Homo sapiens: one gene and its partners. The protein of the gene in region 4 interacts with the protein of the main gene of each other region in a pairwise test. Each region holds a gene or a part of one and is shown on either strand. Other genes may lie near its edges.

The links.
Region 1: the proteins of HTT (region 4) and SPATA22 interact in binary tests that used the Homo sapiens proteins (3 or more experiments, as listed by UniProt).
Region 2: the proteins of HTT (region 4) and NR1H3 interact in binary tests that used the Homo sapiens proteins (3 or more experiments, as listed by UniProt).
Region 3: the proteins of HTT (region 4) and SP3 interact in binary tests that used the Homo sapiens proteins (3 or more experiments, as listed by UniProt).
Region 5: the proteins of HTT (region 4) and NAPA interact in binary tests that used the Homo sapiens proteins (3 or more experiments, as listed by UniProt).
Region 6: the proteins of HTT (region 4) and GOLPH3L interact in binary tests that used the Homo sapiens proteins (3 or more experiments, as listed by UniProt).
Region 7: the proteins of HTT (region 4) and H2BC9 interact in binary tests that used the Homo sapiens proteins (3 or more experiments, as listed by UniProt).

Annotation. Positions count from the first base shown.
Region 1 is NC_000017.11:3,443,968-3,448,501, forward strand, and holds part of SPATA22 (spermatogenesis-associated protein 22), read right to left. Parts: intron 2,635-4,534; coding exon 2,505-2,634; intron 1-2,504. UniProt on the Homo sapiens protein: Meiosis-specific protein required for homologous recombination in meiosis I.
Region 2 is NC_000011.10:47,260,271-47,264,804, reverse strand, and holds part of NR1H3 (oxysterols receptor LXR-alpha), read right to left. Parts: intron 4,397-4,534; coding exon 4,130-4,396; intron 3,565-4,129; coding exon 3,356-3,564; intron 3,259-3,355; coding exon 3,079-3,258; intron 2,887-3,078; coding exon 2,787-2,886; intron 1-2,786. UniProt on the Homo sapiens protein: Nuclear receptor that exhibits a ligand-dependent transcriptional activation activity.
Region 3 is NC_000002.12:173,954,746-173,959,279, forward strand, and holds part of SP3 (transcription factor Sp3), read right to left. Parts: intron 1,488-4,534; coding exon 128-1,487; intron 1-127. UniProt on the Homo sapiens protein: Transcriptional factor that can act as an activator or repressor depending on isoform and/or post-translational modifications. Binds to GT and GC boxes promoter elements. Competes with SP1 for the GC-box promoters.
Region 4 is NC_000004.12:3,129,794-3,134,327, reverse strand, and holds part of HTT (huntingtin), read right to left. Parts: intron 4,405-4,534; coding exon 4,281-4,404; intron 4,024-4,280; coding exon 3,905-4,023; intron 3,043-3,904; coding exon 2,931-3,042; intron 2,691-2,930; coding exon 2,553-2,690; intron 1,767-2,552; coding exon 1,608-1,766; intron 1,515-1,607; coding exon 1,417-1,514; intron 1-1,416.
Region 5 is NC_000019.10:47,486,374-47,491,334, forward strand, and holds the end of NAPA (alpha-soluble NSF attachment protein), read right to left. Parts: intron 4,484-4,961; coding exon 4,415-4,483; intron 3,389-4,414; coding exon 3,338-3,388; intron 2,017-3,337; coding exon 1,915-2,016; 3' UTR 1,264-1,914; downstream 1-1,263. UniProt on the Homo sapiens protein: Required for vesicular transport between the endoplasmic reticulum and the Golgi apparatus. Together with GNA12 promotes CDH5 localization to plasma membrane.
Region 6 is NC_000001.11:150,658,620-150,663,153, forward strand, and holds part of GOLPH3L (Golgi phosphoprotein 3-like), read right to left. Parts: intron 3,310-4,534; coding exon 3,195-3,309; intron 1-3,194. UniProt on the Homo sapiens protein: Phosphatidylinositol-4-phosphate-binding protein that may antagonize the action of GOLPH3 which is required for the process of vesicle budding at the Golgi and anterograde transport to the plasma membrane.
Region 7 is NC_000006.12:26,249,429-26,252,677, reverse strand, and holds H2BC9 (histone H2B type 1-H), read right to left. Parts: upstream 1,065-3,249; 5' UTR 1,028-1,064; coding exon 647-1,027; 3' UTR 603-646; downstream 1-602. Other genes in the region: H3C7 (histone H3.1), read left to right, coding at 2,073-2,483. UniProt on the Homo sapiens protein: Core component of nucleosome. Nucleosomes wrap and compact DNA into chromatin, limiting DNA accessibility to the cellular machineries which require DNA as a template.

The DNA of each region.
Region 1 (4,534 bases), on a different chromosome or scaffold from region 4:
CTCTAGACTTACTCATCCTACATAATTGCAAGTTTGTACCCTTTGACCTACATCTCCCTATTCCCTCCTCCTTGAGTAAATTGTTTAACCACTTTCAAATCTGTTTCTTCACCTATAAAACGCAAATTGTAATTCATGTTTATCTCAAGAAACTATTATGAAGTGACAGCATTATTCATTTATTTAATAACCATCTACTGAGTACTGGTAGTGGGCATTTGTTATTTTGAGGCTGGCCTCCATTTCTGCTAAAAAGACCCAGATTATCCTTCAGGAAAATTCCATTTTTAGCCATATTATTTGGATAGGATTTGTCCCCATCCCCAGATCCACGAGTGAACTGTGACTGACTTAATCCAATCAGCATATTTTATTACTCAACTACGTAGTTCAGGGTTTCTGCAATAGGCATGTTACCAAGTCAGAAATGGTTATATGCAAAGACTCATTTGTTAGTTTGTAGGAAAGAGCAATCAGAAGAAAAATCTAAGAATATGACGGTGTGGTATAAGAATGTATAGTCTACAAAAATTTAATAATCAACTTGCTACCATAAGGAGAGAGTCAGAAGCTTCTGGAGAGACTATAGTGTGGAGCCTTAAGATGAAGCCAACGTTATGACTGGCCAGAAGGATGGAGAGAAATCACTGTGCCATCTCTTGAGCAGCTAGATCAAGCTTTGCCTGAAGTCAGAAACCTAGCCACTTTTCAGTTGCGTGAATAATTCTCTATGCAACACAATATTATACATAGCAATATAAATGAGTATTTAAAATCCACTAAAGTTGTTTTTTTCTGGGGGGTGCTTGCAACTGGAAGATACTTCCTATATACAGTGCAGTGTGCTAGACACTAAAGTGTAGTAAAATGAAGTATCTACCTTTGATAAGTTTAGAGTCTAGCCTAGGAACTCAGGATTATTATAGCACTATGAAAGCTAACCATCACATATAAAAGCATGGACCCCCTTCATTTCTTGATAAGAATGTCTATTGGTGTTTATAATGAGTATTGTGATATTCTTAAAAGGATTATTCTGGAGTGAACCTGAACAACTCACCAAAGAGAACCTGGGGAAATGAATGGAATCAGCATGTCCTTTTAATAGGCTCAGGTTATTTTAATATTTATATTCTGTAAATGAGGTGAGAGCCAAAGGCATCTTTCACACAGGAAAAAGCAATTTAGTGGGAAGTCCAACAGGGGTTAAGATCTTTGAAATAAGATGTTCTACCTCTGACAGTATTCTAGCTCTGACAGAAAACTGACATGAAATAGAATACCATCTGCTATTGCAGTTACGTGGCTACTGGTAAGAACTGAACAAAATAAGAGCTAAGTCAAGCTTCAACAGAGTAGTAACAGTCATGCCAACCAGCTAAGAGATATGCTTCAAGCAACATGAGTAGGACTTGATAAAGAATCCCTGAAGTATATGGGAGTTCCAGAGGCCAGAGGCATGGAAACCTCCAAAAAGCCAAAAACGAAAACTGAACAAAACCAGCCCAGCCAACACCTTGATTTTAGCACTGTGATACCCTGAGTATAGAACGCAGTCAAGCCCACATGGACTTCTGATCTACAAAACTTGAGTTAAGAAGTGGGTGTGGTTTTTAGCTGCTAAGTTTCCATTACTTTGTTACGCAGCAATTGAAAATGAATACAGCGTGCTTTACTCAAAGTCTGAGTCTCTATTGAATCCAATGTCACTTTATATAATAAAGCTTTTTCCTTAATGGTAACAAGAGAGAAACTGGAATCATTTTTAGGTGAAAGTTAAACATGTGAAATGACTGCACTGATAGAAATCTACATCTATATATACACACATTTATATTTACATATATATATATAACAGGACAAAAGGAAAAGGAGGAGGCTGTATCAGTTTCCCATTGCTGCTTACAAATTACCACAAACTTAGTGGTTGGCTTAAAACAACACAAAAGCATTATCTTAATAGTTACGGAGGTCAGAAGTCTATAATGAGTCATCAAAGCCATGTTCCTTTTGGAGGCTCTAGAGTAAAATCTATTTCCTTAATTTTTCCAACTTCTCAAAGATGCCTGCATTCTTTGGCTCATGGCCCCTTCCTCCATCTTCAAAGCCAGCAAGGTAGCATCTTTCAATGCTTTCCTTGTATAAGGGACCCTTGTGATTACATTGAACCCACCCAAATAATACAAGATAATCTTCCCATTTCAAGATCCCTAACTTAATTACATCTGCAAAGTCTCTTTTGCCATATAAGGTAGCATTCACAGGTTTTGGTAATTAGAATGTAGGCATTTTAGGGTGCATTATTCTGGTAATTAGAATGTAGACATTTTTAGGGAGCATTATTCTATCTACCACAGGGACTATTATTAAAACCAGTTCTTTGAATACACTTTAGGGAGTAGCAAAAAGCAGACTGTTTTATTTGGAAGAAAAAGGACTAATCAGACATTAAAACCTGTCCTCCAGAGAGTATTACTGAAGTATTTTTAAAGTATTTTACCTACCTAATACTTCAAAAAGAAGTACAGTTTTCTGTGCATGTTCACGCCAATACTTCATGCTTTCAATAACTGCAGAAATAATTCTTAAAGAACTAGCTTTTTCCTTAAACTGTAACTGATACAATGAGGTTTCCTTTTGAAAAAATAAGAAACATAGTATTAGAAAAATATTTGTTTTTTTCATCATACTCGTTTACCTTCTACGTAAAAATTCTAAGTCCTTACAATGGACAAGTGTGTAAAAAGAACTACTGAAAATTTTAGTATAGTTACTTCCCTAAAATAAGGCCATCAATACTATATTACAGATGGAGAAACCAGGGTGCACTTAGAGACAATCAAGAGGAGAATTATTTATATAGGTATTCATTCACTCATTCATTCATTGACTATTTTAAAGCATCATATGCCAGATCCTGTGACAAATATAGGTAAGGCCATTCCTTTCCCTAGTGCACTCACACTCTAGGGGACTCTAGGGAAGGAGCCAGACACATTCATTCATTCATTCGTTTCAAAAGTGTTTACTGAGCACCTACTACATGCCAAACATAGCTATTTAGGAAAAATTCATGGACAAAACAGTCAAGATATCTGTCCTCGAAGATTTTATTGTCTAGTGGAGGATTTAAAAAATAAGTAAACATATAACAGAATGTCAGGAAATGTACTTTTTTTTTAGGAAAAAAACACACAAGGTAAATGGAAAGAGAGAGAGATGGGGGTTATTATTTTAAGTGGGTTGTTGAATGAGGACAGTGGGAACAGCAAGTATAAAAGCCCTGAGATGGAAATGTTCTTAGCATTTTTGAAGATCAACTAAGAATACAGTGTGTTAAAATACTAATTTTCAAAGGCAAGGGGACGCTTTCCTTTGTGAGGGTGAGGGTTGTGAAGAACATATGATGGGACCTTTTTTCAAAATACAGGTAGTTTCTTCCCTCTTCCCCCGCTTAACGAAGATTCTAACATGCCTCCTGTTGATGATGGCCACAGTAAACCACTGTTACTAAGGTGATTATGTCATATAATTCTTGAGTACAAGGAAACATAAGATTGAGAACCACTGTGAAACATGCTTTATTAATCTTATTTCCAACAAAAAACAAAACATGCAAAAACAAATTTTACCCCGATGGCTTTTTGAAAAGATTGCTTTTTCAGACATAAGGGCAGAACAAAAACTAACAACTGTAAGAAGTTGTTACCATTCCTAGGCTGAAAGGACAAGAGGAGAAAATAAAAGTATCACGCCCAGGAAAGCTATACTCATGAAGGGGCTACATCATGCAGTGACACAGCCACTGCTGGTGATGTAACATTTAAGACAGGAGAAAGTGAGAAAACCCAACCTTTCCTCCCACCCTATGATGTCGTACCAGTGACTCCTACTGGCTGACCTCTAGCAAAAGCCAGCAAGTAAACAATCTCAGGATGATGCACTACATAGGACAGTTCAGCCTTCCACAACAGAGAAGGGCAGGTGAAGAATCAAGTGGGCCAAGGGGCCAGGGAGCAGAGATGAGGAATAACCAGCACACATAATATATAAATAACATTTACAAAGAGCAATCAGAGCACTGAGCGTAGAGAGGAAGTACAGTTGAGATACAGGTATAGGGAAGAATATAAACCAAAGCACAGAGTGTATGCTATGTTTAGAGAATTGTGACGAGTCTGAAGTGGCTAGAGCATTGGACAATTAGTAGACTATGAAATATGAGGCTACAAAGGTAGACTAGGACAAGATCATAAAGCAAAGGTCATAATAAGTTGATCATAAAGAAAACTATGGCCTGCAGTGCAAATCTAACCTGCTATCTATTTGTGTAAACATTTGTTGGAGGAGAGCAGTGTCCATTCATTTATGTATTGCTTATGGCTGCTTCCAAGCTACAGTGGCAGAGTTGAGTAGTATTGCTGAGTAGCTGCAACAGAGACAGTACGGCCCATAAAGCCAAAAATACTGTCTGGCCCTTTAAGAAAAATGTTTGCTGACCTCTGTTGAAAAATACTTAGAATGACATATCAAG
Region 2 (4,534 bases), on a different chromosome or scaffold from region 4:
GGGAGGGGAGGAGACTTGACAAGCAGAGCTCCTGTTCCTTCTCCCCAAGACCTCACTCATGAAATAAGAAATGCAAGCATGATTACTTCAAAACTGCTTGTATAAATAAATCTATGAATAGGTGCAGATTCAGATAGCATGAGTCTACAAGTGCCAAAGGAATACAAAGATCTTAGAACTGGGCAGGGTTCCACAAGGAGGATATTCTGAAGGAGGGGAGAGCCACGGTTAAGAAGGTCTGAGATAATAACCATCGAGGAAAAAGTGGTTTGGAAGAGGGGAGCAGGGCTGGGCTTTAAAGCTGGATAAAGTCATTAAATCACCCCATTAGGTGTCAATACATCCAGGCAGCACACCGGTTACTATAGAAGGCAAAAGGTGCCAACATAGCCCTGTTATGCCCTACAGCGAAGAGTGGCCTTCCTAGAAAGCTCACTGGGTGGACTGCGTTGGGAGAGCAAGAGGCACGTGAGCTGGCCTGAGTTATCAGAAACCAAGGAAGGCTTGATGACTGGCCTGGCCACAGATCTACCAGCCCTGAGAGTGGAGTCAGGGCATCAGCCATATTTTACAGCCCCACTCATCCAGTCGTTAAGCTACTTGGTTTCCTGCTGAAGCTCAATTCCAGTCCCTCCAAAACTCCCTCAGCCTCCCGTCCTTTCCCAGGCCAGTTCTCATGATACAAACATTATCAATAGTTGAATATGAAGAAACCCCTTCTGCGTAGCTCCCAAGCGAGCATCAGATAGAGAGCCGCAGAATGAACTAATTTTTGGAGAAAATACTTCAGATATAGGATGGAGATGGAAGCATTCGCTCTTATTGTACATCCTCTCTGGGCATGTTTGCCATGCCATGGTTCTGGTTCGTCAGAAAGTGCAATTGAAAAAGAGTAGGGGAGGGGCCTGGACAAGTGGCTCATGGCTGTAATCCCAGGACTTTGGGAGGCCAAGGCGGGCGGATTGCCTGAGCTCAGGAGTTCAAGACCAGCCTGGGCAAAACAGTGAAACCCCATCTCTACTAAAAATACAAAAGTTAGCTGAGCGTAGTGGCGCGCGCCTGTAGTCCCAGCTACTCAGGAGGCTGAGGCAGGGGAATCGTTTGAATCCGGGAGGCAGAAGTTGCAGTGAGCCAAGATCGCGTCACTGCACTCCAGCCTGGCAACAGAGTGAGAATCCATCTCAAAAAAAAAAAAAAAGAAAAGAAAAAAAAAGAAAAAGAGTAGGGGAGGCTGTGTGTGGTGGCTCATGCCTGTAATCCCAGCACATTGGGAGGCCGAGGTGGGTGGATCACTTGAGCTCAGGAGTTCGAGACCATTTTGAGACCAGCCTGGGCAACATGGCGAAACCCACTCTCTACAAAAAAATATAAAAATTAGCCTGGCATGGTGGTGCATGCCTGTAGTCCCACCTACTTGGGGGCTGAGGCAGGAGGATTACTGGAGCCCAGGTGGTTGAGGCTGCAGTGAGCCACGTTCATGCCACTGCACTTCAGCCTGCGTGACAGAGCAAGAACTTATCTCAAAAAAAAAAAAAAAGTAGGGGAAATCAGCCCCCATGATCCCCAAAGAGCACATGTGAGGAAGATTTGTTCACTTTTTGACTACTAAAAAGTTGAGTGCACTGAGTTTCAAACTTTTTTTTCAAGCTGTAAAATCTGCAAGCAAAATACTATGTAGCAGTGCAATATATAATGCAGATTTAAATGGAGCTTCTTGTTTGGCTAAAGTAAAGATGAAGGACATTCCTGTGCCTCCCTGTTTCTCCTCCAAGGTGCCATTCCATATATCTCTCAGGTTCCTTGGAATACAGTTTGAAAACCACTGACCTAAAGCAACAGAGGACAGGGGTCTATCTGGAGCAGCTGAGAGAAGCCTATCAGCATTCCAATTTTCTATCTTCAAAAAACAAGGGAGCCTTCCCTTACCAGCCACCCAAACATTGGGCCTGTGGCTCTGTAGTCACTATGGGCCTCTGACAAAAAGCACCAGTCCTGGCCAGGTTCAGTGGCTCATGCCTGTAATCCCAGCATTTTGGGAGGCTGAGGCACATGGATCACTTAAGGTCAGGAGTTCAAGACCAGCCTGGTCAACATGGTAAAACCCTGTCTCTACTAAAAGTACAAAAATTAGCTGGGCATGGTGGTGCACCTAATCCCAGCTACTTGAGAAGCTGAAGCAGGAGAATTGCTTGAACCCGGGAGGCGGAGGTTGTAGTGAGCCAAGATCACGCCACTGCACTCCTGCTTGGGTGACAGAGCAAACTCTGTCTAAAAAAAAAAATGAAACAAAAAAAAAGTACTTGGCCGGGCATGGTGGGTGGCTCACGCCTGTAATCCCAGCACTTTGGGAGTCAGAGGCAGGAGGATCACTTGAGGCCAGGAGTTTGGGACCAACCTGGGCAACATAGTAAGACTCTATCTCAATTTTTGTTGTTGTTGTTGTTGTTGCCCAGGCTGGAGTGCAGTGGTGCGATCTTGGCTCACTACAACCTCTGCCTCCCAGATTCAAGTGATTCTCCTGCCTCGATCTCCCAAGTAGCTGGGGCTACAGGCGCGTGCCACCATGCCTGACTAATTTTTTGTATTTTCAGTAGAGACAGGGTTTCACCGTGTTAGCCAGAATGGTCTTGATCTACTGACCTGGTGATCTGCCCACCTCGGCCTCCCAAAGTGCTGGGATTACAGGCATGAGCCACCGCGCCTGGCCCTCAATTTTTAAAAATAAAAAATAAAAAAAGAAGCATCTGTCCACCCAACCCCAATCCCTGTGTGATCTCAGTTCTCACCTGCTTTGGCAAAGTCTTCCCGGTTATAACTGAAATCCTTGAGGAAGGTGATACTCTCACTCCCAGGGTTGTACCTCCGAGATGTCTCCAGAAGCATCACCTGCACACAAGCAGCAAACCTCAAACGGGGACTAGGAGGGCTGGTCTTGGAGCATGGCCTCTTCCAGGGAGGCCGATTCTCCTCATCCCTGCTTCCCAGCAGATTTGGCTCTCCCAGCTCGATGTCTGGAGGCCCCTCCCACAGATAATCCCACTCTGCTTCTCCCTTCATCCCTTGCCCTTCTCCAGCCACCTCGATCGCAGAGGTCTTCAGCAGGGCAATCTGGTCCTCCCGGCTGAGCTGCAGGAAGCCGGGTAGCTGTTTAGCAAAGTCAACTATCTCCTGCACAGAGACGATGGCCAGCTCAGTGAAGTGGGCAAAGCGCTGCTGACGGGCCTCCCGGCTATGGGGATCTGGTGCCATGGGCCAAGGCTACCCAGGAGGGAAAAGGCAAAGCGCTTTGAGTCGGACATCAAGAAGCCCACTGGTGATCTGGGCGCAGCCGCCTCTCCCCAGGTGTGTCAAGTACCGTGACTCGAAGCCGGTCAGAAAAGGAGCGCCGGTTACACTGTTGCTGGGCAGCGACGAGCTTCTCGATCATGCCCAGTTGTTCCGGGCTGAGCTGGGGCAGGATTTGGGGGGGTGAGGAAGCCCTGGGGGGCAAGGATGTGGCATGAGCCTGTTCCTCCTCTTGCCGCTTCAGTTTCTTCAGGCGGATCTGTTCTTCTGACAGGACACCTAAGGACAGGGCCAAATATGAGGAAGGGAGCAGATGGGGAAAGGATGGGGCAAGGGGGTGGGGGAAAGACAGGAGGGAAGGATGGGGCAAAGGGGGTGGTTTGGGGCTCCAGAAAAGCAGACAGCACTGGGTAAAGGCAAGAAGATTTTTTTTTTTTGAAACAGAGTCTCACACTTGCTCAGGCTGGAGTGCAGTGGCATGATCTTGGCACACTGCAACCTCCACCTCCCGTGTTCAAGTGATTCTCCTGCCTCAGTCTCTTGAGTAGCTGGGATTACAGGCGCTCACCACCACACCCGGCTAATTTTTGTATTTTTAGTAGAGTCGGGGTTTCACTATGTTGGCCAGGCTGGTCTCGGACTTCTGATCTCAGGTGATCCACCCGCTTCGGCCTCCCAAAGTGCTGGGATTACAGGCATGAGCCACCGCGCCCGGTCAAGAAAGATACTGGGATCCATACTTAGGGATCAGTTAGCCCCTGCAAGTTCAGGCACCTGTTTTGGGTCACACCCTGGCCCCCTCTTTCCCCTCAGCCTCTTCCCCACTCCAGCCCCAGAAACTCACACTCCTCCCGCATGCCAGCCTGACGGCATTTGCGAAGCCGACACTCCTGGCACTTGCGACGCATGTAGGTGTCCATGGGGCAGTGGCCGCCACTGTGGCAGATGTAGTGCGCTCCCTTGATGACGCTGCGGCGGAAGAATCCCTTGCAGCCCTCGCAGCTCAGAACATTGTAGTGGAAGCCCGAGGCCTTGTCCCCACACACGCTGCATAGCTCGTTCCCCAGCATTTTGGGGGCTGGCCCCTTTTTCCGCTTTTGTGGACGGATCTCTGGATACAGGAAAGTGCTTCAACGCTCTCCCCCGAGGAAAAACATCATGTTCTCCCTGACTCAGCCACTGCCCTGGGCACTCAGTGACCTTCATTCCCTTCATTATACAAACTCCAGTCTCTCTTTTATGAGAAGAG
Region 3 (4,534 bases), on a different chromosome or scaffold from region 4:
ATTTTCATACAAACATTGATCATTAATTCTAATGTGAGTCTGATGCTGATAAATACCTAAAGCAAAAAATTTCCCTCTATGTATTATCACTGAACTTATTTATGGCATGACATAACTTAAGACTCACCTGCAGGACTGTCAGCATTCTCTCCTGGATGTAGCTGTATACCAGCAGAATCTATAGAGTTCACTGTAACTGTTTGTAGATTTGGCAACTGACCAGTGCTTAGACTAACTGGAGTTGAAGTGAAGGCTCCACCTGCCGCAACTTGACCAAGTGTGAGGGTTTGAACAGGCGTCAAAGTTATTTGTTGGGCAGCAGTATTCTGTATTTGCAAATTCTGCAAGTTCTGGACCCCTTGTACTTGAAACGTTTGCCAAGTTACCTGTCCAGAAGGGGTCACTGTCTGTGCCTGAATTAAAAAGGTTCCAGGATTCAGCTGCAACTGAAGATTTTGCAAAGCCTGTTGTGATATATTTTGACCACTGGCTTGCACACCATGGATTGTCTGTGGTGTAATACCTTGCACAATTTGGGCTTGACTGGTTGGCTGCTGAGACTCTTGAAGTTGTAGATGCTGTACAACAGGCTGTGCTGTAGAAACCTGAATATTCTGTGCCTGTGTCTCTTCAGAAACAGGCGACTGGATATAATTTCCCTGAAGATCTGAAGAATGAACCTGCCCACTAGATGTAGTCAAGCTATTTGTGTTTTGTTGTAATATACCTGTACTATCTATCGTAACAGGCAACTGTGATGAAGAGGATGTTGGCACAAATAAATCTGTATCAGTATTAGTTTCATTAATATCAGGAGAAACCCGCTCACCAGTCCTTTCTGAATTGTCTGAACTATCCATAGCTTGTCCTGTGTTTATCAAATGTCCGTCGGCATTAATGCCTGCAGTCATTGTCTGAGAACTGCCCGAGAGTCCCAAAGAATCTAGATCGACACTATTGATTGGTACAAACGTAATATTTCCTGGCAGACCAAGAGGCACATTAGCAACTACTTGGGTTTGACCAGGAAAAGATGAACCACCAATTGCAACTCCCTGAACCTGGACTTGACCAGTCTGTGGTATGAGATTCTGGATGTTAGCAGAAGGTGTTCCAGAGGCAAGTAAGGTTTGATTAGAGCCAGGAATGATCTGAATTTGACTGCTTTCTTGATTTATACCCCCATTATCTGAAGAGCCTGTGAAACCAATTTGAACCTGCTGACCATCTGCTGACTGGATCTGTGGTATCACTTGATATTGAACACTGGACACTGTACCATTTGATGAATCTGATCCTGGTGCAACGGAAAATATTTGTTGATTCTGCAAATTCTGAAGGGGAAGAACATACTGCCCACTTGAAGTAGCAGCACTTGGAATCTGGACTAGATTACCAGCTTCATCTTTTATAGTTGTAGGTGTGGCTGACAAAACCTCCCATCGGTTTGGTGCTCCTCCTAACTGTGCAGAAGCCAAATCACCTGTCTGGATGAAGAAAACAAAAAGGTGATATATTTGTGGTATATTTAAATCAACCCTCAAAAAATTCTAAAAACTGGTATAAATCCTACTACCTGAAAATTCAACTTATCTTAAAACACAATGGAGTTCAAATACAGGAGCAGTACTATATGAACTACAATAATTATCACTTCCAGTTTTGTTACTGCAAAGACAATTCATCCTATTTGAGTGGGATAAAAAAAATTCTCGGAATGTTCATCACAACCACAGACCAATTTTCTAATCCTGCATCTATGATCTCTAACACTACACAGTTAAAACACAAAACAAAACAGTGGAGATGGCTATGACCAAATCAGGTGCATTATATTTGTGTATAAAAAGGAAACATAAGCATAGTGTATTAAGTCATCCGACTTAGAAAAGATTTATTGCTATAAGCCTAAAATCAAACAATGAAATCTACTCTTTTGTGGCATCTATTAACATACTCTAAAGTAAACTCATGGCTAGGGCTATTCCATTAAGCTATCAAACTCTACTTTTTCCATGAACTAATGAAAAACAAAGACCTTAAAAAAACTTAATGAGAAAAAGTCATTGCCCTGTGACCACATGACAACGTAGCCCCATTTGAAAGGTTTCTCTAGGATCAGAAGCTGGAGGATACACACTGTGACTTTACTTACTAGTCTAAGTTTTCAGTAGAATGTCTGGCATATACCTTTTGTATTCTGGTGTATTAATACAATTTGAGGGAGAGAAAGATAATCTAGGGTTTCATTATATTCTCAATGGGAATCTCAATGGGACCATAAAAATCAGTTGAGACATACACAGTTCTCTCAACATAAACCATTCTATAAAACTTAATGCAAATATGATAAACAAAAAAATCTTAAGTTTCTTAAAGAAACTCACTACCTAATTTTCATGAAGACATAGTTGAGAAATATATACAGTTATTTCAGTGGATGAACCACAGTTAAATGACTGAATTCAAACATTTGAACGTAATTTACCAAGATGAAATACACACGTGAGTAAACCCATGACATACAATCCCAATCTTCAAACGGTTCACTGTCAATCCAAGCAGACATACACACATCCATGCTAATACAATGTGAAAAGTAGCACAGACTAGTCATATGATCAAAACACTCTGTGGAAGACACAAGATTGAAAAAAAAGATTTCATACAGAGATAAAGTAGTATTAGAATATAAGATTTTCCTGTAGTCAGTTAAAAAAGAGGCACTAATAAAAGCATAGAAACAATAAAATCACAAAAAGAAACCCTAAATAATAATATGCAGTTTGGAGTTGAAGAAAAGATCCCAAAAAGGCTCATATTCATAGAGGAAAGTAATGGGGAACAGGACTAGATATTTTTATCAACGCTTGTAAATGGCTTCACAGATCCCACTAAATTGTTTAGACTTTATCCTGTAGATAGTGAGTGAAAGCTATAAAAGGTTTATAAGCAAGTGAGTGGTGCAATCACATCTGTGTCTTATAAAGATAAACTAAGGCTCAATGAAGGAGACTGAAAGAAAGGGAGGAGACTAAAGGCTGAGAAATTGTGGAACCCAATACAAATCTCTAGGCCTGAACTATAAAATAGCGATCTGTCTTAAATACACTTAAATTATATTTACTAAACAATTTTAAAATGAAGCATCAGACATTAAAGTCACATGTCACTCTGCAACTTCAATCTGGTATAGAAATTACAATGTTAAGTCACCTTTCCTAACATTACAGTGACAAATGTTTCATTTCGGTCTCTTGGCATTTTAAGTAAACTACAAATATTTAAATCTATATACTAAAATCTACACTAAAGTGTGTCTAAAATCTAACCTTTATCTTCTTAAGGTTATTGCTCACCTGGAGGATCCACTGAAATTTTTTCTGACCAGCATAAAATTTACAGGTATTGAACTTTTATCAAAGAATATAGTAACTCAGACACAAATTAATTTTATGATACTGGCATTTTGTCCCTTTTCCTTTCTTTAAAAAAAACAAAGTCAAATTTACAGCACCTAAAGTGTTTTTTTTTTTTTTTTACAAAATAGTAATAAAGGCAGATATTCAACCATCACTGAACAGCTTTCTAGTCAAGAAATTCCTTGAAAATAAATACAGCTAACGCAAATGACAAATCTGAGTAAATATTGCCCAAGTCATCCCCTCTCCAGAAGCTAGATAAAAATAAACTGTAGTGCCATTTTTCTCAGCAATTCAGGCCATTAATTGAAGGAAAATCTCTAAACCTAGAGCAAAGTGATGTATTCCGAACTTTTCTGAATAAGCCTGAAATGAAAAGCATTATTAAAATACCTGTGAAGCACAACGATGGGGGAAAAAAAAAAAAAGCAACAGGTAATTTAAGGAAAAGAATCAAGCAAGAAAAGGAACTTTTTTAATTTAATAAATTTGCAGTTTTAAAAAAATTTGCTGAATACCCTATTTTCTAAATGGAATGGAAAAAACACATTGAATCAGAAAACTACTAGATGATTTATGCCAAAACTACACTCGACAATATATTACACAAGAAAAAAAAAAAAGCTCAGAACTGAGTTCTAGTTCTGGCTACACTGTGGAATTGTGTGAGTTACAGCAACTCAATTTTCTCATGTCAACAACCGGAAAAACATTACCTTGCAGGGGCATAAGAATCAGAAGAAAAATATTAAATTTTATAAACTATTGAGCACTGTGCAATCCCAAGATCATTGTGAGTGCTAAGATTATGAGAATAGATTTGAAAAACATCCATTAAAATTAGCCTAGCACAATTCCTGGCACTCAGTAAGATCAATATATATTTACTGAATGAAAAGTTATTTTACTTTAAAATCATTGCAAACACAATGACAGAATGGATCAAAACAAATTTTGAGGTATTAAGAGCCTTCTATGAAAAAGTCTAAACCAATTTTAAGCCTATTTATTTCCACAATTCCACAATGAATCAGCTCCAAATATTTCAAAACTACAAAGCCTTGCAAAGCACAATCAAATTTCTTTGTAAAAGAAATTTCATCAGCAATATA
Region 4 (4,534 bases):
ACCGTCACTCTTCAACACACAATGTTCTGGGTTTAACTGCAACCAGGATGTTGCATTTTTCCCACACCTCTCAAGAACATTGATTAAGAATACTTTATCTCAGTAAATACAAGCTTAAAAGTAAATGTGTCCCTTTCACATAACTGGTTCTTTCTTCCTTCCATTTCTGCTTATGTCATGGTTTCAACTCTCAAACAGCAACTTCACAAACATTGATCAGTTACAGAGGGGCCTGCCGCACAGCCCCAACACCACTTCTAAATAAATCTCAGACCCAGGGGTAGGAACAAGGGACCTACACCAAGGACCACCCCACTATGTCACTATGTACTCCACAGCACGAGAGAACAGAACAGGCCCCTACTGCTGTACCCCTCCCCTGCAGCCCCAAGCACCCAGGGGCACCATCACATGCATGGCTGACACAAAGACCCCCAGCTAGCCACAAGATTGAGCTCTTAGCATGCTTCCTTCTGCTCAAAAAAGACACAACTGACTGAAAACCTGGAAACTAGAGAGAAATTACTGTCAGGCATGACATTTTAAAAGGGGGAGTTATCCCACAAATTTGACAATTGTAGGTTTTTTGCTTTGATTTTTACCAGTTAATTTTTACTCTTGTTGACTGGCCAGTTGTGACTTATGAGCCAGTTGGTATGGAAAGGTTCAACATGCTATCACTTAAAGAATTGAGCCTATTCCACTTTATACAGAAACAGAGGTTGAGTAAATAATCCCTAAGGCTCACTTTAACTCTTACCATACTATGGGCCTAGCACAGTGGTTTTTTTTTTTTTTTTTTTAATTCAACTGATTATTATTACTATTATTTTTGAGACAGTCTCACTCTGTTGCCCAGGCTAGAGGGCAGTGGTGTAACCACGCCTTACTGCAGCCTTGATCTCTGGGGCTCAAGCAATCCCCCCTCCACCTCAGCTTCCCGAGTAGCTGAGACTACAGGTATGCACCACCATACCCAGCTACTTTTTTTTTTTTTTTTTTTAATTTTCTGTAGGGACAGGGTCAACTATGTTGCCCATAGTCTTGAACTCCTGGGCTCAAGCAATCCTTCCACCTTGGCCTCCCAAAGTGGTCAGATTACAGGTGTGAGTCACCGTGCCCAGCATATTCAACAGACTTTACACTTAATGATAGGTTATTTCTAAATATATCCTTTAGGAAGAGGTCTATTTCAAACAAATATTCTGAGAATTAGAACTTAAACTGAAGTTTATGAAGCATTAACTTTACTGGCAACGTTTTCTTTCTAAAGCTGAGAGATGGATACATGGTGGGTATTACTGGTTACAGCTTTAGAGTGCATGGAAATATTTCCTATTAAGCTCCAATTTTAATTGTAGCAATGATAAAATGTCCACTAAGTGAAGAAATGGTTCCACAGAAGATTATGCTCACCCTCACAGCTGTACAAGCTAACTTGCAAGTAACAGAAGACTCATCCTTCAGTGTTTTCCGCAGCAAAGGAATGCAATCCGCCAAAGAAAATGTATTTCCTAACCAGAAGAACAAGCAACAAACATCATCATCTAAACTTAAACCTTAGTAAGCATAACTAGAAAAAACACAGCTGAAAAACTGGCCGTTACCTGTGAGGGTTCTAATGGTGCCCATCCAATCTCCCACGTGGAAGCGGGACCTGCTGAGGATGGAGCAGATGAGGGTCCCACAGAGAATGGCAGTGGCTCCTCGAACCTGTGGGTCTCCATGATCGATGTAGTTCAAGATGTCTGAGACATACTGTTCCTCTGTGGAGATAAATTGCTCAGCCATGGAACAATTCCCTACTATCAACTTTCTAACTCGAAACAAAAGCTTAATTCTCAGGAAAGAGAAAAAGAGGTGTGAAGAGAAGATCCAAATTCAGAAATGACTTCACTATAATAACCCTAAGTGATTAAAAAAAAAAAAGTTTCAGGATTTAAGAATTAGAGATTCATCATATTGCCAATATGTCCTCAATACCACAGACTTTCTGGATTATAATTCTAGGTTGTCAGATAATAAATCTGATTAAAATTCCAGATTCCACTTAAAAAAGATTAGAAAAAACCCTATTACACACTTACCTCATATAAATTCAAAAACACAAGTGTACCCTCTCACCCAAAGAAAAAGAGAGAACGAGAAGGCTCCATAGTAAGCATGGGCGCGATGGAGACTTGGGTCCACTGCTGCCTCAGCCAGTCCTGGTTCCCACTCACCCTGAGTGTGAATGCCTGGCCTGGCTGAGTGCGACTCAGCGCCACTGCGACCAGGCACAATTTGTGCTTTAGGTTTAAATCCGATGTGTATATATGTTGGCTCTTACGTGCTGAGGTTTCTACTTTTCTCCTCTATGGGTTTCATCTAAAGGGAACCCATGAAACAAAGAACTTCACTATTCATGTGTTTTCTGAAGAGCTACAACGCAGGTCAAATATCCCAAATGAACTCAAAACACTTACTGCTCTAAAACTAAAATAGTCAATACTGAAATAGTTTTTACAATAATGATTAAATCTGAGAAAATAAGATGTGAACTTTTAACATACCAGGGTATTCCGTGGTGTCAAGAGGAACTTTATAGAGTTTGCTGAAGAAAGATTCCGGGTGGAGGGCCACAGCTGCTCCCACACAGCTGAGGGCCAGGGCCTTCACGCTGACCCTCACATCCCTGTCCGGAACCAGCACTGCCAAGAAATCACCCAAGCCACCTTCAGCCTCAAACAACAGATTGTTTTCAAATGAACAAAACCAGACCCAATAACCTACCTGCTCCCATCATTTCCTCCCTCCCCTCGGCTAGTGAAAACCAAACTCATCCTCAGATTCTACTTCCTCTGCTGCACGCAAGGCAAAAACAGGCCACCAAGCTGACCTCTGAAACCTAGTTATTTCCTTCAACTGTGCACATCCCCTTTTGTACTCACCATTTTTTCCCCCTGTTAGCAAAAACGAAGCAGATAAAAGGCGGACACAATGGACAAGAGGTGCAGAGTCATCATCAGTGGACTGTCCAATGTCACCTTTGATGCGGCAAGGCTAGAAAGGAGACAATGACACTTGTTTGTCTCATACTCAACAATACATTCATGCATTAGTTCATTCAACAGATAGTTCCAGAGCAGCACTTAAGCCAGGTGCTGGGGATAAAGAGATGCCCTGGTTTGTGCCCATATGCACACCTGACCTCACAGAGACCATGGCCAAGCAGAAACAGACAAGTCAGAGGCAGCAGGACACAGGGTCACAGGGCTGTGGCAGGGGATAAATGCAGCATGCAGGGAGGGTGGGCGTGGTAAGAAGGCAGTTGACACTAGGCATTCAGGAACGGCTGCTGCAGAAGCAAAGCATGAAAGGTCTTCTACAGGACAAGCAGAAGCTACTTGGGGAAAGGCAACAGCCTGGGGAAGCCCAAATCTAAGAGGAAGTGGGCCTGGTAGATAGGGAGATGCCAAAGGCTATAATTCTGATTGATGGGACGAACTGTGAAACGCTATTCCTTGTCCTTGAGGAATTAAAAGTGAAGACAGTTACATTTACATGTAAAAAGATAATATGAAGAGAGACTTTTAGAACAGTTCAGTAGAACCAAAACAAGAAACGTTGCAGGCCATACGCAACCATCAAATGAATGATCCAAGAAATCAGACAAGGAAACATTCAGTACAGAATAGATTTGTCTGGGGCACACTCTCAAAGGAGGCAGAACTCAGGCAATTCTCAAGGCTGTGGGTAGTACCTGGAAAGGCAGAAAACAACAGGCCTGGGAAGAGCTGGTATTTAAAGGGGAAATTTAAAGGCCCAGGGATGGGAAAGCAATAAAGTAGACAGTAGCCAGGGCGATTTTAAATCCTCACACAAGCTCAGAAACACCAAGTCGTCTCAAGCCTATGTCCCTCACCTTGTTTTCTTGATCACCCGGTTCAGTAGCTTCATCTCTCAACACAAATTTATCAACACTGCTGTCAGAAGGCTGCCTGCAGTGACTCATGTTTTTCAATAAATGTGCCTGTTGAAGGGCTTTAAAAACAGAGAAATCAAGATTAAGTGACAAATTTCCACTTAAAATACAATTATACATTTATGCTAAGATAACTCAAAAGTATAAGATTTAGATCAAGAAAAAGTATGATTATTCCTCAATTGGTCATTTTCATCAGCTATTCAGAACTCAGAAAACAGTATCAAAGGACTTCTTCTTGGAAGCAAAGATATAATTAAGATGTCCAGGTCTGAATACAAACCACTTTGTAGCGCATCACCTGTAGTCCACATACCCATGGAAGAGTTCCTGAAGGCCTCCGAGGCTTCATCAGGAAGAATACCTGTGGCTTCCTCATCTTCATCCTGGGGCTGTCCAATCTGCAGGCCCAAATACTGGTTGTCGGTACCGTCTAACACCTAAACGGTTCAAGGGGGGCTGTGAGAATTTTGAAGTGTGATCACCAAGAGACAAGCCCTCCAACATGGAAGTGCAATGAGGAAAGAGCACATTTTACACACAGAACACAAATGTACTCATCTGTCATTT
Region 5 (4,961 bases), on a different chromosome or scaffold from region 4:
AAACCCCCAAAGGGTAGGAAACCTCAGTCAAACCACAATTTATCAGAGTGCGGCCCCAGTCTGGATACTTTTATTTTTGCACCATCATGCCTAATTTTTGTATTTCTAGCAGAGACAGGGTTTTGCCATGTTGGCTAGGCTGCTCTCGAACTCTTGACCTCAAGTGATCCGCCTGCCTCGGCCTCCCAAAGTGCTACGATTACAGGCATGAGCCACAGCACCCAGCCCCAAGTCTGGATACTTTTAATGACTTTAAAGCATAGCCAGGGCGGACCATCACTGATTTAGGTCATGGATGACAGAAACAGATTCTCACACTATCCTTCAGCCAGCACCCATGATGGGGGCAGACATGGTAATCAATTTCAGGTCTCAGAAGTCTTTGCTGCCATTATCAGTGGACTGGAGCTGTGGGAGAAGCTGCAGGGGAGAGAGGAGCAGGGCAGGTGTCAAGGAATTTGAACCTCACCTGCACTTCTCTAGGCTTTCTGGGCTGGAGCCCCTCTCCCAGGAGTCCACCCTGGTTTCCTAGGCAGCCCCTCCTCTGTGCAATTACTGCCCCTGCTCACTTCCTGACATTTTCCCATCATGCCTGGGCACTGAGCCTCCTTCAGCTGTCTCCTCTGTAGCGAGGGGCCCTGCGCGGGGCAGGGTAAAGCACATGTGTACCAGACAGGGCCCCCAACATGCACATTGTGGAGTGTGGTGGAGGCAGCTGGTTTCTGCCCACCTTTCCTGGGCAAAGGCTCCTGCTATCTCCTCCCCCACTCCCCAGACCCACTCGGGCCTCAGACTCTGCCCACCAAAGCCGCTTCCTCCCCCGTCCTGTGACAGATGGAACAACTGTCACCGGGGCGTTCAGCCTTCCTGCCAGAGAAATGTGGACATGGGAGATTCGGTGGGCTTCCACCCATTCTCATCCAAAGCAGTCATGAGGACCGTCACATTCGACCCTCCCACTGGCTCTGAGGGGTGGCATCACCACCGTGCATCCCAGTTGAGGAAATCAAGGCCCCTGGACCCCAAGAACCCAGAGAAAGATCAAGATGGGCGCTCTGGGACTCCCAAGCCAGAGCTCCTCCCCAGGCCCACCGTCCCTGGGTCTCCCCCACCTAGAAACTGACCCAGCCCACACGTGTTTCAAGGATGCATGCGCCTGACCTCCCAAGAGCTCGCCCAGAGTCTGGGGGACCAGGAGTGTGAGAGGGACTGGTGACTGGCCCAGGGGCAGAGTGGGTAGCAGAGGTGAGGAGGAAGAGAGACTCATGCAAAAGTGTTGTTTTTTATTTTCTTTCTTGGGCCAGCTGCAGCTTCCAACCAAGAAAACCTCAAAGCATTAGGGAAGGAGCAGGTGTGGGGCTGGGGTGGGGAGAATCCCCTAAGCTCCAGGGCCCAGGGTCTAACCTGAGAGGTCGGGGCTGCAGGAAGCTGGGGGAGGCTCCCGGGGCTGGGGGAAGAGGAGCCTGCCCCCAGCAGAAACAGCAGGTCTCAGCGGCTACATGTGCTTTAGAGCTTGGCTGGGGGACAAAAGTGGGAGAGAGAGAGAAACCGGCCTCATGACTCAGCTGGTCAGGAGATAGGGGGCCAGATGCTGACCCCAAATCCCCGGCAGCACCCCTAGCAAATAGGTCTGTATCAAAGATTCTGTACAGCTGGTTTTGGGGGTGAAGGGCACCTATGGGGGCTTAAATAAATGGACAGGGGGCAAGGGATGTAGCGAGAACAGAGGGTGACTGTCCGGCCAGCAGCCTGGGCCTCTGGCGCCCCTGCATGCTGACCCCCGGTGCCACCTGCCCACTGTGGCCCGCGGCACTCCCCAGATGGGAAAGGAGGGAAGCTCTCCAGCAAGTCTCGGCCCCACCTCTCTCTGAGCAGATGGGACAGGAAGACGGGCACTGGGGGGCTGGGTGGGGCTTAGCGCAGGTCCTCCTCATCGCCCTGGATGGTCTTCTTGATGCGCAGCAGCATGGTGGTGAGCCACTGGTCCAGCCGGGAGATGGAGTCGTATTCCTTCACCTGAGGGCACACCAGGTGATAGGCTGGCCATGCTCCCCCCGTTCCCAACCCTGCAGCCCAAGGGCACTTGTCCCAAGGTTTTCAAGATCTGTCTCTGTCACCCCTGGTCTCTGAGGAGGAGTAGAGGGAGGGCTTGAGGCCCCAACTCAGCCATGGGAGCTCCCTCTTGTCTGTCTTGACTATGCTGGGCACATCATTTCCCTTGGGGGAGAAAGATATTGTAGCTTTAAAAAAAAAAAAAGGTCCATGGCTGGGCGCAGTAGCTCACGCCTGTAATACCAGCACTTTGGGAGGCTGAGGCGGGCGGATCACGAGGTCAGGAGATTGAGACCATCCTGGCTAACAGTGAAACCCCGTCTCTACTAAAAATACAAAAAATTAGCCAGGCGTGGTGGTGGGCGCCTGTAGTCCCAGCTACTCGGGAGGCTGAGGCAGGAGAATGGCGTGAACCCGGGAGGCGGGGCTTGCAGTGAGCCGAGATCACGCCACTGCACTCCAGCCTGGGCGACAGAGCGAGACTCCGTCTCAAAAAAAAAAAAAAAAGTCCAGCATCCTCACTGAATGGGTGGGAAACTGAGGCCTGGAGATATGGAAAAGGCCACTCCTGAGTGCCATGGGACACGGGGGAGAGAAGCCACGGCCTGCTGGGCATCCCCTCCCTGAGCTCCTGGCTGAGTTGCCACCCACTGTCTGGGGCAGGAGGAACAGGATGGCATTTTCACTGTCCTCAGTTAGGGGCTTCCATTCCCAAGGGGCACCTAGGGAGAAATGCTTGACATGTGCCATTAGAGGAGTGAATCAGGACCTGAGCCGGACACCACTAAGCCCGGGAATGCTGGGAACAGAGAAAGGGAAGGGAGAGAGAGCCGCGTGGGCGGCTCCACCAGGCAGAGGGAAGCTGGCACCTCTCCCATGTCCTCAGCTCCACTCTCCTTCTCACCCCTTCCCTCCCCGTCTGTGCCTCCTGGGTGCCCAAGGCGCCCACTGTGAGTCTCACACACTCACCTGGGGGACTCAAGGAACCCTGGTCTTCAGAGGCAGACAGATGTGGCTCTGAACACCAGCTCTGTCCCTGAGGGGCCAAGGCCGAGCCTCCTGACCTCCCCAACCTCAGTGCCACCATCTATAAAATGGGGAGAACACTCCCTGCGCCTCTTGGCGCTACTTGTAAGGTTTCTGGGGTGACTGGAGAAAGAACTTCACAGTGGGCTGGGGGCCAGATGAAATGGGTGAATGTCATGGAGAGCGTGTCTGAGAAGGGCAGCTTTCCTAGGAGACCCATCCCCGTGAAGGGGCCTGGCCCCCCATGCTGGCCACTCACCGACTCGGTGTAGCTGTCCACATTCTGCTCCTCGTGGGCCTCTAGCAATTTCTGCAAGCAAATGGCAGAGAGGGGTCAGGGGCCTATGCTGACCTGAGGTCTGGCCTGGATTAGATGAAAGGACACGCTATCTGTATGCCAGGCCTGGGGCTGGGGCTTCCTGAGGACTCTCAGAGGGTCAATCCGTGTGGGTTAAACTGGGGATGGGTACGGGCGTGTTGCGATCCTGCTGCCCTATTCATCAGAAACGGCTTGCTCTCAGGGCAACCTTACCAACATAGAACATCACACAGAATGTGTGTGTGTGTGGGTATGGGGGGTGTGTGTGTTGGGTGTGGTGTGTGGTGGAGGTGTGTGTGTGTGTGGTGTGTGTGTTGGGGTGTGGTGTGTAGGGGCACGTGTGGTGTTTGGTGTGTGTTGAGTTGCGTGTGTGGTGTGTTCGGTGTGTGTGTGGGGTGTGTGTGGTGTGTGTAGTGTGTGTGCAATGTGTGTGTGTGGGGTGTGTCATGTGTGGTGTGTGTGCAGTGTGTTTTGTGTGTGGGGGGGTGTGTCGTGTGGTGTGTGTACTGTGCAATGTGTTTTGTGTGAGGGGTGTGTCGTGTGTGTGTAGTGTGTGTGCGATATGTGTGGTGTGTGATGTGTTTGCTGTGTGTGGTGTGTGTGTAGTGTGTGTGGGGTGTGTGGGGTGGTGTGTGTGTAGCGTGTGGTGTGATGTGTGTGGTGTGGTGTGATGTGTGTGGTGTGGTGTGTGTAGTGTATGTTTGGTGTGTGTGGTGTGGTGTGATGTGTGTGGTGTGGTGTGTGTAGTGTATGTTTGGTGTGTGTGGTGTGGTGTGGTGTGTGTAGTGTGTGTGTGTGTGTCCACCTAGCCATCCTGAGCTCCAGCACTCCCCGAGTTGTACTTTCTTCATCTGGAAAATGGAGACTCAAATGGCCAAACAAAACAAAACAAAACAAAACAAAACAAAGACACCCTCTGAGAACTACTGGACAAGTCTTGGCGATTGTCCCACCTGGAGCCCCAGCCACCCCCGTCTGAGGTTCGGGAAGGGGGAGGCCGGAGCACCCAGCACTTACTTTCATCAACTTGCATTCCCGGGAATCAGAGAAAGCTGGGAACAGCTCCTCATACTTTTGGACAGCCAGCTGGGCAGCAGGGAAGGGAGAAGATGAGTTAGTAACAAGAGGGTCCTCAGAGCTACTGGCCTAGCAGCTGAGGGGACTTGGGGATGTCGGGTGATATTGAGTCAGCTCTTGCACCCCTCCCCCAGCCTCAGGTGTCACCTGGCTCTGTGTCTGTCAGTACCTTCCCGTAGCTGAGCTCAGCACCAGCCTGGCTGCAGAGATGGCTGCAGGGAGAGGTGGGTGGAGGGGGAAGGTTCCCCAGATAGGCACCCACTGCCTCCTCCCACCTGGCTCAGCTGGGGCAGGGGACAAATGAGCACATCCTCCATGCCAGGCCTGGGGCTGGTGCTTCTTGAGGACCCTGAGAGGGTCAAATGACGGTGAGCCCCCTTTTCAAAGTGAGGAAACAGATCCAGAGAGGGGCAGTGACCTGCCCAGGGCACGGTGAGACATGGGGTGGGAATGGGAACCTGGTCTGACAAAGCCCAAGCTTTTGCCC
Region 6 (4,534 bases), on a different chromosome or scaffold from region 4:
CTTATGGAATCATTACTGATTGGTCCCATAAGGGGATGTTTAGCTTGAATTGCACCTCTCAGTTTGCGTGTCATGGCCACACTATGTTCAGCTGGTTTGAACAAAATGGTCAGATGGTAGAAATGGTAAGAAGTATGACAAGAGTTCCTATTATCTGGAAACATGGTGGTAGAGTGGCACCTCAATCTCAAATGATATGGCCCGCTGTAGGAGCTAAACATAAGGATTTGTGGAAACTATTAATGGCTCTTAATAAGATCCAAATTTGGGAAAGAATAAAAAACCATCTAAAAGGACACTCTACAAACTTGTCTTTGGATATTGCAAAATTAAAAGAACAAATATTTAAAGCATCCCAGGCACACCTGACCTTAATGCCAGGAACTGGAGTGCTTGAAGGAGCTGCAGACAGATTAACAGCTAGTAACCCATTAAAATGGATAAAAACACTTGGAAGCCCTTTGATTTCAATGATAATTGTGTTATTAATCTGTGTTGTTTGTCTCTGTATAGTCTGCAGGTGTGGATCCTGACTTCTGTGAGAAGTAGCTCACCTTGACAAAGCTGCCTTTGCTTTTATTGCTTTGTAAAACAAAGAAGGGGGACGTGTTGGGAATAGGCCTCAAAAATCTGGCCATAAACTGGCCCCAAAACTGGCCATAAACAAAATCTCTGCAGCACTGTGACATGCTTGTGATGGCCTTGATGCCCATGCTGGAAGGTTGTGGGTTTACTGGAATGAGGGCAAGGAACACCTGGCCCACCCAGGGCGGAAAACTGCTTAAGGTGTTCTTAAACCACAAACAATAGCATGAGAGATCCGTGCCTTAAGGACATGTTCATGCTGCAGATAACTAGCCAGAGCCCGTCCCTTTATTTCGGCCCATCCCTTTATTTCCCATAAGGAATACTTTTAGTAAACCTTATGATTGGCTTGCTGTCAATAAATATGTGGGTAAATCTCTGTTCAAGGCTCTCAGCTCTGAAGGCTGTGAGACCCCTGATTTCCCACTCCACACTATATTTCTGTGTGTGTGTGTCTTTAATTCCTCTAGCGCCACTGGGTTAGGGTCTCCACAACTGAGCTGGTCTCGGCAAGATTAATATCCAGAATATATATAAAGAACCTCTGGCCAGGCACAGTGGCTCATGCCTGTAATCCCAGCATTTTGGGAGACCAAGATGGGTAGACTGTCTGAGCTCAGGAGTTCAGAGACCAGCCTGGGTGACATAGCAAAACCCCATCTCCACCAAAAACACAAAAAATTAGCCAGGTGTGATGGTGCGCACCCATAGTCCCAGTTACTTGGGAGGCTGAGGTGGGAGGATCCTTGAGCCCGGGAGATAGAGGTTGCAGTGAGCCGAGATTGCACCACGGCACTCCATCCTGGGTGACAGAGTGAGACCGCATCTCATAAATAAATACAAAAAAACCTCAACAACAACAAAACAATCAAACTTAAAAATGGGAAAAGTATTTTATATTTCTCCAAAGAAGATATATAAATGGTCAGTAAGCACATAAAAATATGCTCAATATTTTTAGTCATTAGGAATGACATGAAAACTATTTTCATTTGAAAATAAAAATCAAAACCACAATGAGATAACATTTTAGGCCTACTCGGATGTCTATAATTAAAAAAAAGAAAAGAAAGAGAAGAACAAGTGGTGATCAGCATGTGGACAAATTGGAACCCTGGTGCATACTGGTGGGAATATAAAATGGTGCAGTCTCTGTGGAAATGTTTGGTGATTTCTCAAAAGGTTAAACATAAAACTGCTATATGACCCAGCAATTCTATTCCTAGGTATATATCCAAAAGAATTAAAAACAGGAACTTGAACAGATATTTGTGTATCAATGTTCACAGCAGCATTATTCACAATAGCCAAAAGGTGGAAACAAGGCAAGTGTCCATCAACAGATGAATGGTTAAACGAAAGTGTTATATACATACAACGGAATATCACTCAGCCATAAACAGGAATGAAATTTTGATATATGCTGTGACATGAATGGACCTTGAAAACATTATGCTTGGTGAATAAGCTAGGGAAAGTAATGACAGATATTGTATGATTCTACTTATATGAGGTACCTAGAGTAAGCAAATTCATAGAAAAAGAAAGTAGAATAGAGGTTGCCAGGGACTGGGGGGAGAGAGAAAGAGGAAGTTATCATTTAATAGGTACAGAGTTTTAATGGGTAATGATGAGGAAGCTTTGGGTATAGTATAGATAGAGGTGACGGTTACAAAATATTGCAAATATATTTAATTTCACAGAATTGTACACTTAAGAATGGCTAAAATAATAATAAATGTTGGCTGGGCGCGGTGGCTCACGCCTGTAATCCCAGCACTTTGGGAGGCCAAGGCGGGCAGATCACGAAGTCAAGAGTTCGAGACAAGCCTGGCCAATATGGTGAAACCCTGTCTCTACTAAGAATACAAAAATTAGCCAGGCGTGGTGGCACGTGCCTGTAATCCCAGCTACTTGGGAGGCTGAGGCAGGAGAATTGCTTGAACCCGGGAGGCAGAGGTTGCAGTGAGCTGAGATTGCATCACTGTACTCCAGCCTGGACGACAGAGCAAGACTCCATCTCGAAATAATAATAATAATAATAAATGTTATGTATATTTTACCACAGTAAGAATGTTACTCGTTGATTTACATATGACCCAGTTATCTACTCCTAGCTACATACCCACAAGAAATGAAAACATGTTCAAACAAAAACTTGTCCGTGCGTGTTCACAGCAGCATTATTCACAATACCCAAAATGTGGAAATAACTCAAAGATTCATCAACTGATGACTGGATAAACAAATGTGGTATGGCCATGCAATAAAATATTATTTGGCAAATTAAAACTGGGAAATTCTAATAAGAATAATAGACTGCATCAATGCCAATATTCTCATTGTCCTCTCAATAAAGATGTTTTAAAAGTTTCTTGTGAAGAATACTATTTAAGGGCTTTTGGGGTGGGGTGGCAGAAGATAAGGTGAAGCTTTGGAAAACTTTAGGTATCAATTAACCATGCTTTTTCTGTCCCTCATTAGAATTAAATAGTGAACCACATCTATCTCATCCAGCACGATGAATTTCGGTACATCTTTTACTAAATTTCAGGGTAGGATAAAGATAACAAAGTGTGAAATTCATATATTATTTTAAGTCATCTTACCAGTGAGTAGCTCTATCCATGTTTGGACAGTTTCTGTGGGTTCAGTTGCTTTGATGTGTTTCAGAGTTTCATCCAGTAAAACATCACCTGTTGGGCTGTCTGACTTTAGCAGTACCTTTGAGAAAAGGAGAAAGAAGGAACCCTGATTCCTTCACTTCATTCAAGTTAAAATCTTTCAATATATCATGTATATGTTACTGGTTAAAAATTGCAAGAATGTAAGGAAGCATAATATACTGTCTCTGTCCTCAAGAAGTTTAAAATATAGTATGGAGTGATAGTGCAAAGACAAAAATAACATTTGAAGTGGGCCCTAGTGACAAACTGGATATGAATGATAATGGAGAAAAGTTTCAATAACAACTCATTTTGAGTCTGGAAACCAACTTTTGAAACCATTAATAAAGGTAGGAAACAGCTGGGCTCAGTGGCTCATGCCTGTAATCTTAGCACTTTGGGAGGCTGAGGCGGGTGGATCACCTGAGCTCAGGAGTTTGAGACCAGCCTGGGCAAAATGGCAAAATCTTTTCTCTATTAAAAAAATAAAAATTTAAATAAATAAATAAATAAATAAACAAAGGCAGGAAAGTCAGAAAAGGAAGTCAGTTTTGGGGAAAGGTTGATAATTTGGTTTTCTTTCATTTTTGTTAAGTTTGGTTTTAAATGATATGGGATAGCCAAGTTGAAATTTCTAGCCAATAGTTAAATATGTTTCTGGAGGTGGAAAAACAAGACCTGCCTAGAAATTTGAAAATTAATCTCATGAAGGTGACAGACGAAGCTATAAAGGTAAATGATATCTCTGAAAGGACAGAAGATCACTCAAGTGATACAAACTGAGACTTGGATGTTAAGAAATGGAGAAGTAAGGAAACAGTGTATAGTCAGAGAAGCAAGAGAATAAGATAATAACAAAGGCCAATAATGAAGAAAGTTTCAAAGTGATAAAAAGTGTCAAATGACACATATAGGTTAAAAGAGAAAAATAAATCAAAGACTGAAAAGAAGCTGGTGATACCTAAGAATGTAGTTTAAGTGGAGTGCTTAGGATGATAAAGAAGTTGTGAGTGGAAAAATTCAGTAAGAAAATGGATACAGGAGTATGGTTGGAAAGGACTTGCAGTAAATGGAAGGAAACAGAATATTATTGGAGAATAACCAGGGTTAATCAATGACTGACCTGACCCATATGAGTCCCTCTCCCTACATCATACTCTATTTCGTAATTTTTTTTTTTTAGAGACGGAGTCTTGCACTGTCCCCCAGGCTGGAGTGCAGTGGCGGGATCTTGGCTCACTGCAAGCTCCACCTTCCGGGTTCACGCCATTCTCCTGCTTCAG
Region 7 (3,249 bases), on a different chromosome or scaffold from region 4:
ATACTACTTGCCAAATAACTAAAGGTTTATTGCATGGCATTTTGTTTTCATTTCCATAAAGTTTGTCTCCTAATCCTTATCTATTAAGAAATTTAAATTTTTCTCAGGTACTTGGTAAACTACAATATCCCAGTTAACATTAACTTCCACGAGACTCCTACAAAGACCACATTATGCTATCTAGAGTGGGTTATTATAGGCACTAAATGTACTTTCAACTCATTTTGAATACTCAAACTTACCAGCTCTAGACTGGTGGACGTGTTGCTCCAAATTGATTGCATTTTAAGTTGCAAACTTAGTTTTTGGTTCCTAAACAAGAATGCCCACTTTTCCTGCTGTGTCAAATTATCTGCTCAGTAATACAAGGCAAGGCCGAGGTGGGAAAACTTGCTTGAGTTTAAGACCAGCGCTTGAGTTTAAGACCAGCCTGAACAATGTAGTTGTACCCCACCTTTATAAAGACAAATAAACTCTAAAAGCTTAGTGTTTGTCAAACGCACAGAATAAACAGGTGATGTAGGAAAATTTTACCTGTATTGGCGACACTTCTCCCATAGAATACAGCAGCACCCAGCATTAAAACTCTTAATTGAAATCATTAAGTGGCTCTGAAAAGAGCCTTTGGGTTTGAACATGCGTCCATTTATTTGGAGCTGGTGTACTTGGTGACGGCCTTAGTGCCCTCGGACACGGCGTGCTTGGCCAGTTCCCCAGGCAGCAGCAGGCGCACGGCTGTCTGGATCTCCCTGGAGGTGATGGTCGAACGCTTGTTGTAATGAGCCAGGCGGGAAGCCTCGCCGGCGATGCGCTCGAAGATATCGTTGACAAAGGAATTCATGATCCCCATGGCTTTGGAGGAGATGCCGGTGTCGGGGTGGACTTGCTTCAGCACCTTGTAAACGTATACGGAGTAGCTCTCCTTGCGGCTGCGTTTACGCTTCTTGCCATCCTTCTTCTGCGCCTTGGTCACCGCCTTCTTGGAGCCCTTCTTCGGGGCGGGAGCGGACTTAGCTGGATCAGGCATTGCAACAAGATAAAGGAGTAAGAATACACCCCAAAGTGAAGGCTCAACAGCACAGCTGGCCGTTTTTGTAGGTCTTTTATGCAAATAGGTGCTTAATCATTCTCAATCCCTGATTGGACCAAATCAGCCAATAAAAAAGTTAAATTCAAGTCTACTTTTTGATTGGATATTTATGCGAAACCTACCCTAAATCCTTTTCTACACCTCCCGGGGGAAAAAACGTAGTTTTTCATTCAAAACATTAGAAAAACTAATGCCTTGCCAGTAACATCTACCTATAAGTTCTGTCTCCTTAGGTGAGAATTTAAACAGAAACAAAGACGGATATTATGTTTCTAGTTTCCTACCAAATTGCAGCTTCCGGATTTAAAATTATCTATGAATAACTAATTCTAAAATGGAAATTAGCTAAAGATTTACGTGTTTCCAGAATTATACCATTGGCTTTCTTTTATAATCTGATCAAGGTCATTAGCATTCTTACATAAAAATTTAAGCTTTTTCAGTAATCAAAGGATGAACACATCTCAAGAGCGATGGGATTTTAATATCCCCTAGGAACGGAGTGTCTGGAAGTGAAACCAGTGTTTGTTGAAAGGTTCAGAATATATGAAATAGGGTACTTATATTAAAAATAAAATATTTCTTCAAAGTAAGAGTTTTTTAAAAAATATAAAGGAGACATTGAGCTGGACCAATCACTCTCAAACGCGGTATTTTTGAATCGCTCCGGAACTGCAGAACGTTCATTTCCGTCTGTCAAACATAATCCCAAACAAACTGATTAAAATAAAATCAATGAAGGTACGTAATACAGGTAGGCACATAAAACATAATAAAATGTAAGGAACTAGGGGAAAAAAGCATTTAGATAGGTTAAGATTTTCTAAAATGAGACCTAGTAGCTGATCACAAGTCCTATCACACTACATAATTCAGGGCGCGAAACTGGAAGATTCGGACCAATCAGAAGGACTTTGCCTTTATAAATAGGAGTAAGAACAACTGTTTGTTCAGTTGTGACCATTGCTTGAAACCCATTCCTATGGCACGCACGAAGCAAACAGCTCGTAAGTCCACTGGCGGCAAAGCCCCGCGCAAGCAGCTGGCCACTAAGGCGGCTCGCAAAAGCGCGCCAGCCACCGGTGGCGTGAAGAAGCCCCACCGCTACAGGCCTGGTACTGTCGCCCTCCGTGAAATCCGCCGCTATCAGAAATCGACTGAGCTACTGATTCGCAAGCTACCATTCCAGCGTCTGGTACGTGAGATCGCGCAGGACTTCAAGACCGACCTGCGCTTCCAGAGCTCGGCTGTGATGGCGCTGCAGGAGGCCTGCGAGGCTTACCTGGTGGGGCTCTTTGAGGACACCAACCTGTGTGCTATCCACGCCAAGCGAGTGACTATCATGCCCAAGGACATCCAGCTCGCTCGCCGCATTCGCGGAGAGAGGGCATAAGTTGTACTGAGGGTGTGCGCCAACTTAAACCAAAGGCTCTTTTCAGAGCCACCAACAATTTCAGTTGAAAGCGCCGTAGCACTAGGGAGTAATGTCTCCTAAAACAAGGAGGGTGGAGGGTTAGGGGATGGGGGCAGGGCCGGTGGCTCTTCTAAACTAGGCTTTTGTGTCTTGGCCATTGTCTTCAAAATGGCCGATAGTGGCGGCTCACGCCTTGTAATCCCAGTACTGTGGGAGCCCGAGGAGGGCGGGTTACTTATACAAAGGTCAGGAATTCGAGACTAGTCTGCCTAACATAGTGAAAACCCGTCTTCACTAAAAGTACAAAACCAAAAAACAAAAATACGGGTGTGGTGGCGCCCTCCTGCAGTCCCAGCTATATCGGGGGCTGAGGAAGGAGAATCGCTTGGACCTGGGAGGCAGCCGTTGAAGTAAGCCGAGATCGCGCCACTCCACTCCTCCATGGGTGACAGCGAAACCCTGTCTCAAAACAACAAAACAGAAAATGGTTGTGTGCTGAGGCAAAACCAAAACTACAGGGACAAAGGAAACAACTTGTTGACAAAAGTGTACGAAAGCTTTATTTGTGACAGTATGGGGAGTTAAATCATTATTATTCTTTTTGGCTTGCCCTGAGAGTTCATTTGAGACATCAACAGGAGAAACGGATACAAGTTAATATAATACAAATTTTACTTGGCATGGGAGCCTTCCAATTAAAACCCCGAGGTGCAGGTGAAGCTGTACACTATGCTCAGGGAAAACG